4 separate regions of the Homo sapiens genome follow, and all the other regions are linked to region 4. The links come from fine-mapping of genetic effects on gene expression. A gene starts in region 4. Each other region holds a variant in brackets. All regions are shown on one strand. Distances are between the middles of the regions.

What was found. PIP is the estimated chance that this variant, and not a neighbour inherited with it, causes the effect.
Region 1: its variant is fine-mapped to the expression of RBM44 in tibial artery (GTEx, PIP above 0.99). The same link has a PIP of 0.9 or more in cerebellum, ileum, lung and transverse colon.
Region 2: its variant is fine-mapped to the expression of RBM44 in blood mononuclear cells (TOPMed, PIP 0.97).
Region 3: its variant is fine-mapped to the expression of RBM44 in whole blood (TOPMed, PIP above 0.99).

What each region holds. Positions count from the first base shown.
Region 1 is chr2:237,777,516-237,780,201 of GRCh38, forward strand. It overlaps LRRFIP1 (LRR binding FLII interacting protein 1), which reads left to right. Exons shown (of 24, transcript NM_001137550.2): 24 at 1,907-2,686. The coding sequence ends at 2,017. Among named protein-coding and RNA genes, the nearest start is that of RBM44, 20 kb to the right of the region's middle. The variant T/A (reference allele first, on the strand shown) is at 1,058.
Region 2 is chr2:237,764,884-237,767,569 of GRCh38, forward strand. All of the region lies in intron 19 of LRRFIP1 (LRR binding FLII interacting protein 1), which reads left to right. Among named protein-coding and RNA genes, the nearest start is that of RBM44, 33 kb to the right of the region's middle. The variant T/C (reference allele first, on the strand shown) is at 1,265.
Region 3 is chr2:237,770,561-237,773,246 of GRCh38, forward strand. It overlaps LRRFIP1 (LRR binding FLII interacting protein 1), which reads left to right. Exons shown (of 24, transcript NM_001137550.2): 21 at 1,521-1,638; 22 at 2,306-2,385. Among named protein-coding and RNA genes, the nearest start is that of RBM44, 27 kb to the right of the region's middle. The variant T/C (reference allele first, on the strand shown) is at 1,239.
Region 4 is chr2:237,797,647-237,800,332 of GRCh38, forward strand. It overlaps RBM44 (RNA binding motif protein 44), which reads left to right and starts at 1,133. Exons shown (of 16, transcript NM_001080504.3): 1 at 1,133-1,215.

The DNA of each region.
Region 1 (2,686 bases), 20 kb before region 4:
CGATTATGCCACCATCTGCTGGCTTCCATTGAGCTGTTGAGAAAGTTGTTGTTTTAACGGTCGGTCCTTTGTAGGGACCTTTTTTTTTCTTCTCTAGTTTCTTTCAGGTTCTGTTTGTCTTTGATTTTCTACAGTTTTACTGTTAGATGTAGTTTATTGGAATCTTTCTGCTTGAGATATATAGTGTTTCTTGGATCTGTGAAGTCTTTTTAAAAATTGATTTTGGAAAATATTCAACCATTAACTCCTTAAATAATTCCTCTTTTTTAGTCTCTCCACTTTCCCCTCTGGAACTCTAATCAGAGGATGTTAGAGATTCTCATTGTCTCCACATTTTTTAACCATCTCTCTTTCATGTTTTCTATCTCCTTACCTCTCTCTATTGGATAATGCCTAAAGTTTTTGCAAAGATTTTCCAGTTCACCATTTTTTTTAAAAAGTGTCTTCATTGTTGATAGTTTCTTGCTGCATGTTCATGTATGTCCTCTTTTTAAATTGTATTCTTATTCTTTAAATATTTCATACACAGCTGTTTGGTTTTCTGTATCTGACAACTGAAACATGCTCAGTCTTTGGGGGTCTAATTCTGTCATTTATTGCTTCTGTTGACTCTCACTCAAATGGTTTGTCACCTTAGTGTTTTGTGAGCTTATGCTTGATTTTAATTTGTAGGAATAACTCCAGGCTTAACTTGTGGAAACTTCCTGCAAAAAGGGCTTGCTTCTGCCTCTGCTAGTGAGGTGGGGTCGGGACTTCTGTCCCAGGACCCAAACAAGCTTCCTTGAGTGTTTTGGGTCGAAAGCAGAGCCATAGACCCTGTTCTTGTCACCCCTCCAAAACCACGTTCTCCCAGCTTAGGGCACCCCACTCTGCCCTGCTGCCTGTGGGTCCAGATGATGCCCTGCTAATGTGGCTTCTGCAGCTCGTCTTCTGCCTGACTCTCAGGCTCCATGGCCCTGGCTCCCAGGTGTGGCCGTCTTGGCCTCAGGCATTCCTGCCTTGGACTCTGGCTGCCAGGGCTGTGGGGACCACCTTCGCCATGCAGTCCAGGCTCAGC[T/A]CTTGTTGTTTGTGTTTGTTTACCTCATGCCTCACTTACCTTTTGTGAAACCATCAGGATCCCCACTGGGCGTGTGGCTCACGCCTGTAATCCCAGCACTTTGGGAGGCCGAGGTGGGTAGATCACCTGAGGTCAGGAGTTCAAGACCAGCCTGACCAACATGGTGAAACCCCATCTCTAATAAAATACAAAAAATTAGCCAGGTGTGGTGGTGTGCACCTGTAGTCTCAGCTACTCAGGAGGCTGAGACAAGAGAATTGTTTGAACCCAGAAGGCGGAGGTTGCAGTGAGCCAAGATCACACCGTTATACTCTGGCCTGGGTGACAGAGCGAGACTTTGTCTCAAAAAAAAAAACAAACAAAAAAAGAGGCCGAGCGTGGTGGCTCATGCCTGTAATCCCAGCACTTTGGGAGGCCAAGGCGGACAGATCACGAGGTCAGGAGATCGAGACCATCCTGGCCAACATGGCAAAACCCCGTCTCTACTAAAATACAAAAAATTAACTGAGGGTGGTGGCGCACACCTGTAGTCCCGGGAGGCTGAGGCAGGGGAATCGCTTGAACCCGTGAGGCGGAGCTTGCAGTGAGCCGAGATCACGCCACTGCACTCCAGCCTGGGCGACTGAGCGAGATTCCATCTCAAGAAAAAAAAAAGAAAACCATCAGGATCCCCAAGGGTGTTCCCTCTCTGGAGTCCAGTTGTTTCAGAGGAGGAAGGGCATCATGAGGGACCAGGGGCCAAGTTATCATTTTATTTTTCAGTAGGATTGGAATTTCGGTAACACAGAACCCTGTTATGTTTGGAGGAAACAAGTTCCTTAAAGCTCACTGCCTTTCCTCCGTTCCCAGCTCCGCTCTGCATTGGATAAAACAGAAGAGCTCGAGGTGAGCAACGGCCACTTAGTGAAGCGTCTGGAAAAAATGAAAGCAAATCGGAGTGCACTCTTGTCCCAGCAGTAAATTCCAGCTCTGATCAGGCAACTGGTTGGTGACTGGAGAGCATTGTTTCATAGGCTTTTCTCTGTCCTATCTGGGAGCGCTGCTTCTTCCCCTGCCTTCCGAGAGACGAAGACCGTGGCGAGCTTGGCGCTTAGGGGCTCCCGTGCCATGGCTCACCCCAGGGAGCCCCAGCAGCCACCAGGTGCCTCTGTCTGCAGACCCCTGGCCCGGGCTGGCGCCGACGCTCAGAACCTGCAGGTACTTCATAAGCACACAGGGGCCTCGAGGGAGCTCTGTGTCTGACCGCACAGCAGCCTCTGAATGCCGCTGGAAGTGATGATCAAAGTAAAGATTCAGTTGGGACTTGAGTTTTTTTTTTTTTTCATGTGTCTTGCTGAAGATTAAGGGGAAATGTTACAGTGTTGGGACTTCCTTTCATGGCAGAATCTACAATTTGAGCGACTTCAGTAGTATCTCTTAGTCTACGCTTTTCATACACAAAACACTGTGGAACCACAAGCCATTACCAAGCAAAACTCTTTCACTGGAAACAAGGGGGCAGTCTAGAAGTAAAAGTGACCTTAAGAAGACTCTTTACAGGCAACAAATGAAGCTTTTCTAAGGGATTTTTGCATCAGTTCAGTCATAAGAATACTTTTTTCCAGGGTAATTAGGCAATAGCTTCACTGA
Region 2 (2,686 bases), 33 kb before region 4:
AGAAAGATTTAAAGTTTTTTTCTGGAAGTGATATATGTCAAATTACATTTCCTACTGCAGTATTTGAGCAGGGACAGTCATTTTTTAAATGTTTTTGGCCGGGCGTGGTGGCTCATGCCTGTAATCTCAGTACATTGGGAGGCCAAGGCAGGTGGATCACCTGAGGTCAAGAGTTCGAGGCCAGCCTGGCCAACATGGTGAAACCCTGTCTCTACTAAAAATACAAAAAATTGGCCGGGCGTGATGGTGGGCGCCTGTAATCCCAGCCACTCCAGAGGCTGAGGCAGGAGAATCGCTTGAACCTGCGAGGCAGAGATTGCAGTGAGCCAAGATCAAGCCATTGTACTCCAGCCTGGACAACAAGAGCGAAACTCTGTCTAAAAAAAAAAAAAAAAACACACACACACACAACACAATGTTTTCACGCCTGTAAACCTAGCACATTGGGAAGCCAAGGTGGGAGGATTGCTTGAGGCCAGGAGTTCAAGGCTGCAGTGAGCTATGATTGCACACTGTACTCTAGCCTGGGAGACAGAGTGAGACACTGTCTCTAAAAAAAAAAAAAAAAAAAAAAAAAGTTTTTGAACCTTAAAATACTTTGTTTGAATTTCTAATCATCATTCAAAAGAGCAGTAAAAAATGGTTACTTGTTCTTGTACAAGCTACTAATTAGACTATAGTAGGATATTTTAAAGAGCTGAATCACTTTTGGTATTTTGGTATAAATATTTTCATTTGTTATGTCCCAGTATATTCTTACTGGAAAATTCTTGTTTTGATCTGCCTGAAGAAAATATCTGTTTTCTATATAAAAAAATTTTTTAAAATAATTGTAAAGTTAGATTTAAAATTGTAAAATATAAAATCACAAAGGAATGTACCTTATGAATGTTGTTGACATTTTATGAAATTATGTGGATTCATATTACTGTTACAAGATAGAATTGAATGCAAAAAGACCAAAACCTCAATAAAATTTGAGGAAAACGTGTTATTATGTAATTGAAATAAAAACATTTTATAATTGTGCAAGCCTGTGGTTCCACTCTTTGGGCTGCTTGAAGTCTGAGTCTGACTACTGTTGTATGTAATACCACCTTTGAGTAATATCTGCTTGGGGGTTGCTGATTCCTATTGGGGTTCCGTGGAAGACCCACGCCTGATGCCCTCCCTCAGTAAGGAATGCACTTCCCTCCTGGCATCGAGCCTGGGGCTAGCATGGGCATTACTGGGAGAACTGAGACGATTGTCACGCACCATCCCC[T/C]GTGATCTGTGGTTCTGATGTGCAGCCTCAGCTGAAAACGGTCTTCACCTGTGGCTGTGCTTACCTGCGCCACTACTTACAGTGTTTTGAAGAGCAGGATGAAAACGGCAAAAACCTTGACTGTTTCTGCTCAAGTGTCCTGAAGTAGAGGATGGTGGGGATGATAAATGCTTGCTAGGAAATAAGTCCAAGGGCTCTATAGGACTTCACAGGGTTTTAGTTTATGTCTCTAACTTTAGCAAAGCTGCATTCCTATTGGAATGCATACTGGAAACAGCTCTCATTCCTACCTTTAAAGGGCTCTTGGAAAGCAGTGTGACAACCAAGGTCACTAAATGGTGAGATCATCAAGCCATTTTAAGTTCTTTCTCATGTTATTCACCAGCACCCTGCAGGACGTTGGGCACACATCACATCCCTCAGCTCAGCCATCCAGCCGTCTCAGTGATTCACCACTCATTTGCTTAATTAATAGACAGGTTTGATCACTTTGTACATGGAAGGCACTGTGCCAGTGAACAAGCAGTTGGACCCAGCCCTCCAGTAGGGAATGGACAGCTGAAAATCCATGAGCAAGAAAGAAGGAAAAAGAAAGAGTTCTGAGCAGCCAAACCATTTCTCGATGATTTCAGAGCCTTCATTCTGAGCATCAGTTATATGCTCTCCAGTGTAATGACTTTATAGCCAAGCACAGTAATTGATATTACTGTGAAGGCCCTTAACTTATCAAGAAATGGTTGAGGCCGGGCACATTGGCTCATGCCTATAATCCCAGCACGTGGGAGGCCGAGGCAGGCAGATCACTTAAGCCCAGGAGTTCAAGCCCAGCCTGGGCAACATGATGAAAGCCCATCTCTACAAAAAAAATATACAAACAATTAGCCAGGCATGGTGGCATGTGCATGTAGTCCCATGTAGTCCCAGCTACTTAGGAGGCAGAAACACCTGAGCCTGGGAGGTCGAGGCTGCAGTGAATTGTGCTCACACCACTGCATTCCAGCCTGGGTGATGGAGTGAAACCCTGTCTCAAAAAAAAAGAAAGAAAAGAAAAAGAAAGTTGACTTAGCTATACTCCATATAAGAAGGTATAGAAATATATAGAGCAATTTAGAAAGATTATAGTGTCAAAAGATTCAAACTCAGAAAAGAATTGAAAGGTTGCCTGCCAGCCATATCCCCAGACGAACCTAGACCACTGGGGTTTCACTATCATACAGAATAGAGAAAAACATTGGTTACTGACACCTGAAATCAAAAAGCTTGGATATTTTTCAGTCCCAAACCAGAACATAGCTCCCGTATATAAATGTAAATCTTCCTTCAAAAGTATAATTAAGTATAATTATGGGTGTATGTCAAAAATATAGAGGAAGATGGATTTTTACTTATAGGTTGTTATACAAAGTTGGGACAGCAATCAAA
Region 3 (2,686 bases), 27 kb before region 4:
AGGCGGGCGGATCACTTGAGGTCAGGAGTTCAAGAGCAGTCTGCCAACATGGTGAAACCCCGTCTCTACTAAAAATACAAAAATTAGCCGGGTGTGATGGTGCGCGCCCGTAATCCCAGCTACTGGGGAGGCTGAGGCAGGAGAATCGCTTGAACCCGGGAAGCAGAGGTTGCAGTGAGCCGAGATCGCACCACTGCACTCCAACCTGGGTGACAGAGCAAGACTCCATCTCAAAAACAAAGAAACACTGAACAGTTATCCTATCTGATCTTTTTATATGCAGGATAGTGATTAAATCACTCTACAACCACTTTCCTCTAATTTCTCCTCATAAGCCTAATCAAATGTATTTGCCTTACTTCCTACCATTCTGTTGAAGATTCTCCGAAAATTGGAGAAAGCACTAAATATGGTAGGAAGATTCTCTTGAAGTTCCTGTGATCTTTTGAAACTGCATTCCTGAGTTCTATCCTTACTTCCTTAAAGCAGCATGCACTTTTGGTTTGTTGTTAATCAGGGGTCTCCTGTGCTTGGTGTGTGGGGTAGGAAGGCAGGTGATCACCTGCAACAATTCTTCACAGATTGGAAGTTAAACATGAAAAGCCCCCGGAGACCCCACGAACTAGATGCCAGAAAGTTCTGCAGTCATTGACTGTTAACTGCAATTCCAACTATACGGTCAGCCCTCCATATCCATGGGTTCCATATCCGTGGATTCAACCAACATGGATTGAAATATTCCAAAAAAAAAAAAAAAAAACCCATAAATTCCGCAAAGTTCCAAAAAGCATAGCTTGAATTTGCCCTGCACGGAGTCCTGCACTGAATCCACACAAATGAAGTGAGTTGTAGGCGTTGGGTATTAAAAGGAATCTAGAGGTGATTTAAAGTGTACCGGAGAATGCAGGTAGGTTTCTGCAAATACTGCACCATTTTATATCAGGGACTTGAGCATCCACAGATTTGGTGTCTGAGGGGTCCTGGAACCAATCCCCCCCCCCCCCCGCCCAGATACCAAGGGACAACTGGACATGTTTCTGTCTTGCTTAGAGAGGGGAAAGCTAGCTAGAGACCAACTCCCTGAAAGCTGGCAAACCGCCTCTGAACACACCTGCAGCTGGCCTGGACGCTGAGAAAGCACTCGACTTTTGGGGGACTTAATTACAATATATTGGAGCCCAGAAGGCTCCAAGTGGCCCTTTCTGGTTTCTTAGTAAATAAAGAGAAAGTGAATAGCA[T/C]GGTGACTTACTGAGTCTTAAACATTGCAGGTATTTCATGTACAGTCTCCTCCTGAGTCCTAGAAGAATTTCACTTTAGAAATGACTTTTCTCTCAGAGTTACAGTGTAATTCATTTTTCATTCATTGTACATTGAATTGTGTTTCTGAGAAGAGTACTGATGGACACAAAGTGCCTTCTGTCATTTGACATGCTGCTTCCTTTCTGATGGGCTCTAACTTCAGCTTTTCGGTCTCATTCAGAGTAGAGAAATTAACAGATTTTACTGGCGGGTGTTTTCAGATTAAGAAACTCAAAGGGCAGCTGGAGGAGAGACAGAAGATTGGCAAACTAGACAATCTTCGATCTGAAGATGATGTCTTGGAAAACGGGACAGACATGCATGTAATGGACCTACAAAGTAAATGTCAATTCTTGTGTAGAAGTAAATGCTTTCACATGTGCTGTTTTAGTATACTTGTGCTGGCAGAGAAAACTGTCACGGCAAAGAATGCCCTCATTCCCTCACATCCCCACAAAAGCCCTTAAAAATAAAAGCACAAGGAGGGGTAGGTAGACAGAACAATGGTGTTTCTCTCTGAGCCTATGAAATAGAACAGGTACCCAAAAACGTGCACCAAGATACCACCACATGTTGTGCCGATGGAAACCACATTTACTTTGCTGGATACAGCAATCTTTCGATCTGTTGATTGTATGAAAAAAAAAAAATGAAAGGCTTTTTTCATGCTAATAAACTAGAAACAGTCTTAAGGGAGATAAAATTATGCCCAGTCTCTCTCCGCCCTTTTCCCTACCCCCTACCATCTCTTTGTCTTCTTCACTCATAGGCACTCTCTTGCCTGAGGTTTCCTGCCCCAAGCACAGGGGCGGAAGGCACTTTCCCTGGGTTCATGGGGAGAGAGTGCCTTCTCCTACTCTCAGCTCTGGGAGGTTGTGGAGGCAGGGCCAGAACTAACAGATTTGTGAGATGATTACAAAGTAAGGGCTTGGTTCCCAGTAACTATTGTTTTAATATTTGAAAAGCCCAAGAGCTTAACAGATTTTCCTTCTCTTTCAACCTTTAGGGGATGCCAACAGACAGATCAGCGACCTCAAATTTAAACTTGCAAAATCTGAGCAAGAGATAACTGCATTAGAACAAAATGTACGTGTAAGCAACAACGGGCAGAACTGATGATTGACTGGAGTTTTACTTGCTAGAAATAGCCCTGAAAGGCTGAGGACCAGAAAAAGCCGAGATTTTTAGAACCAAGAAATGTCCTAAGAGGGATAAGTTAAGACAGCAAGTCTTTCCATCCGTTTCTTACAGAGCAAGCAGGAAGGAAAGAATTCTTAGAATTTAAGTTGTTACAGTAGATACTAATCCTTTATCAACAACAGTTAGTTGTAGAAAATAGCTAATGTGGCTTGGGAGTGTTTTAAAATTTTGTTCTTTAAAATTAATT
Region 4 (2,686 bases):
ATCAAGGATAAGACTAGGCACAAAACATGGGGGGCAGGGGAGGGGATGCAAAAACTCAGTAATCTTTTAATGCAATCTTTTAAAAAATCGAAATTAATGCAAAAAATCCATAATAAAATATTCAAATTTAATTTAATTTAATTTATTTATTTTGAGACGGAGTCTTGCTCTGTCATCATCCAGGCTGGAGTGCAACAGGGTGATCTCAGCTCACTGCAACCTCCGCCTCCTGGATCCAAGCGACTCTCCTGCCTCAGCCTCCCGAGTAGCTGGGATCACAGGCGTCCACGACCACACCTGCCCGGCTATTTTTTGTGTTTTTAGTAGAGACGAGGTTTCGCCATGTTGGCCAGGCTGGTTTCGAACTCCTGACCTCAGGTGATCCACCTGCCTTGGCCTCCTAAACTGCTGGGATTACAGGCGTGAGCCACCGCGCCCAGCCCAGAATATTCAAATTTTAAATAAAGACAGGACCAGTAACAATGTACCCTGTGGAGCCATTTTAAGAGTCTGAGGCGAAAGGAAAAAATAGGACTGAATTTTTTCATTACTTTTGACTTTTTTTAGAGACTGCATTAAAATATTATTTATCTTGATTGCTATTTTGGCAGCCTCTGAAATCCTGTGCTCATGACAAATGCCTCACTGGCCTCACCCTAGTCGCGGCCCGACCCTGCTAACGGTATTTCTAGAAGATGGGCAGAGGACAAGCCAAACCCCGGGAGGGACCACGCGGCCTGGGAAACAGTTCGGCAAGGAGGCCGGGCCCCTGTCCCGCCTCTGAGGGCGGAGGACTCGGCCTGCACCGGACCCAAGCGAGGGGCAGTCTGGCCTCTGCTGGCAGAAGCAGCGCTTCCAAGTATTTTCATATGGTGACTTTGCAGAGCTGCGCGGTCCAGACGAGGGTTTCAGGCTGCAAAGCGGGAAAGTCTTGGGGGCCGCTCTGCGCTCCAAGACAGACGCCCACAATCTCTTCTACGTCGTGCAACATTCAAGCAGGCGGCCTCCTTCCCGCGCTTTCGCGCCCACAGGCTGGGCCAATCACAGTGCCGCACTTTTCATACTGCCCGACAGGCGGTGGGCGGGCCGCTGGTGACTGTTACCCAACAGGCGCCGCGGCTGCTCCGGTGGCGCCACTGACTCGGAGGCGGCTGCGGAGAGCGGGGCGCTGGCCCGTGGAGGCGGCAGCGGCGGCGGCTTTCTAGCGGATCCGAGGTGCGACGGACAGAGACGCGGGGCGGCAGGTCGGGCGGCGAAGCCGGCGAGGGCGAGGCCATGGGCTTGAGCGGTCGGGGTTGGCGAACCCCGCGTGTGGCCGGTCCCGGCGGCGAGGCCCGTCCCGCTGAAGCACGCGGGGACTCCGAACGGCGGTGTAGGCGAGGCCAGCGAGGCGGGCGGGGGACTGGCGCGTTCCTTGGGCGGCACTGGAGTTCCGGCGCCCTCATAGCGGGCGCCGACACCGCAAAAGTCGTTCTCGAACGAAGTCGCGGGGCCGGTCTCCCAAACTTGGTTATGTCCCCGGGGAAAGCTAGAAATTCGCACATATGCTTCTTCTTGCCGTGGAGACTGATGGAGCCTCTGCTGCGGGGCGGGGACTCTAGCGAGAGGGGGACGTGAAGTTCGTTCCGTACTCAGGCGTGTGTGCCCCTGACCGACGCGTAGGACGCCCTGGAGGACGGCGCCAGCTCCTGACCTAGTGTGAGGTGCCCGGACGGTTTCCCTAAGAAGCGCGTATTTAAGATGAGATCTGAAGTTGAGCGTGAACTCAAGGTGGGGTAGGGGGTGGGCAGGCGAGAGAACGCACAGGGCCTGACTTTTTGCATTTTTTTAGTAGAGACGGGGTTTCAACGTGTTAGCCGGGATGGTCTCGATCTCGGTCTCTATCTCCTGACCTCGTGATCATCCCGCCTCAGCCTTCCAGAGTGCTGGGATTACAGGCGTGAGCCACCGCGCCCGGCCAGGGCCTGACTTTTTAAGGAAATGGAAAGGAGGGTGTATCTGGAAGACACCAAGTGCCAAGGCTAACACAGAGCCCGGACCGTTGTAGGGTTTTACAGGACTTATTCAGATTTTAATCTGTCTGAAAACAGTGACAGTCCGTTGCTGAGTTTTAAGCAGGAGCGTAACTGATTCGATAAGCATTTTAGAAAGATTATTCTGGCCAGATGTGAGGTGATTGTCTGCATAGCTGTGAGAGTCAGGAGTTAAAATTGACAAGACCTCAGGGATAAGGGAGGTGTCAAGGGCGAGTCCTGTGGTTTCTGGCGATACCATTCCCTGGAGTTTCGTGCACTGGAGGAAATAGTTCGGTAAGTGAGAACTCAAAGAAAATAATAAAAATGGGCATGTACCTAGGAGTGGAATTGCTGGATCATGTGGTTGTCTTGTGTTTAACTTTCTGAGGAAGTGCCAGACTTCTCCAGAGTGGCTGCACCATGTTACATTCCCATCGGCAATGGATGAAGGTTCTGATTTCTCCATGACCTGCTCAACACTGTTGTTACTGTTATTGTTATTGTCATCCTAGTGGGTGTGAAGTGATATCTTTTGGTTTTGATTTGCATTTCCTTCATGACTCTTGATAAATTGAGCATATTTTCATGTGTTTATTGGCCATTTGTATATCCTCTTTGTCAAGTCATTTGCTCATTCTTAATATTGGGTTGTTTGCCTTTTTATTGTTCAG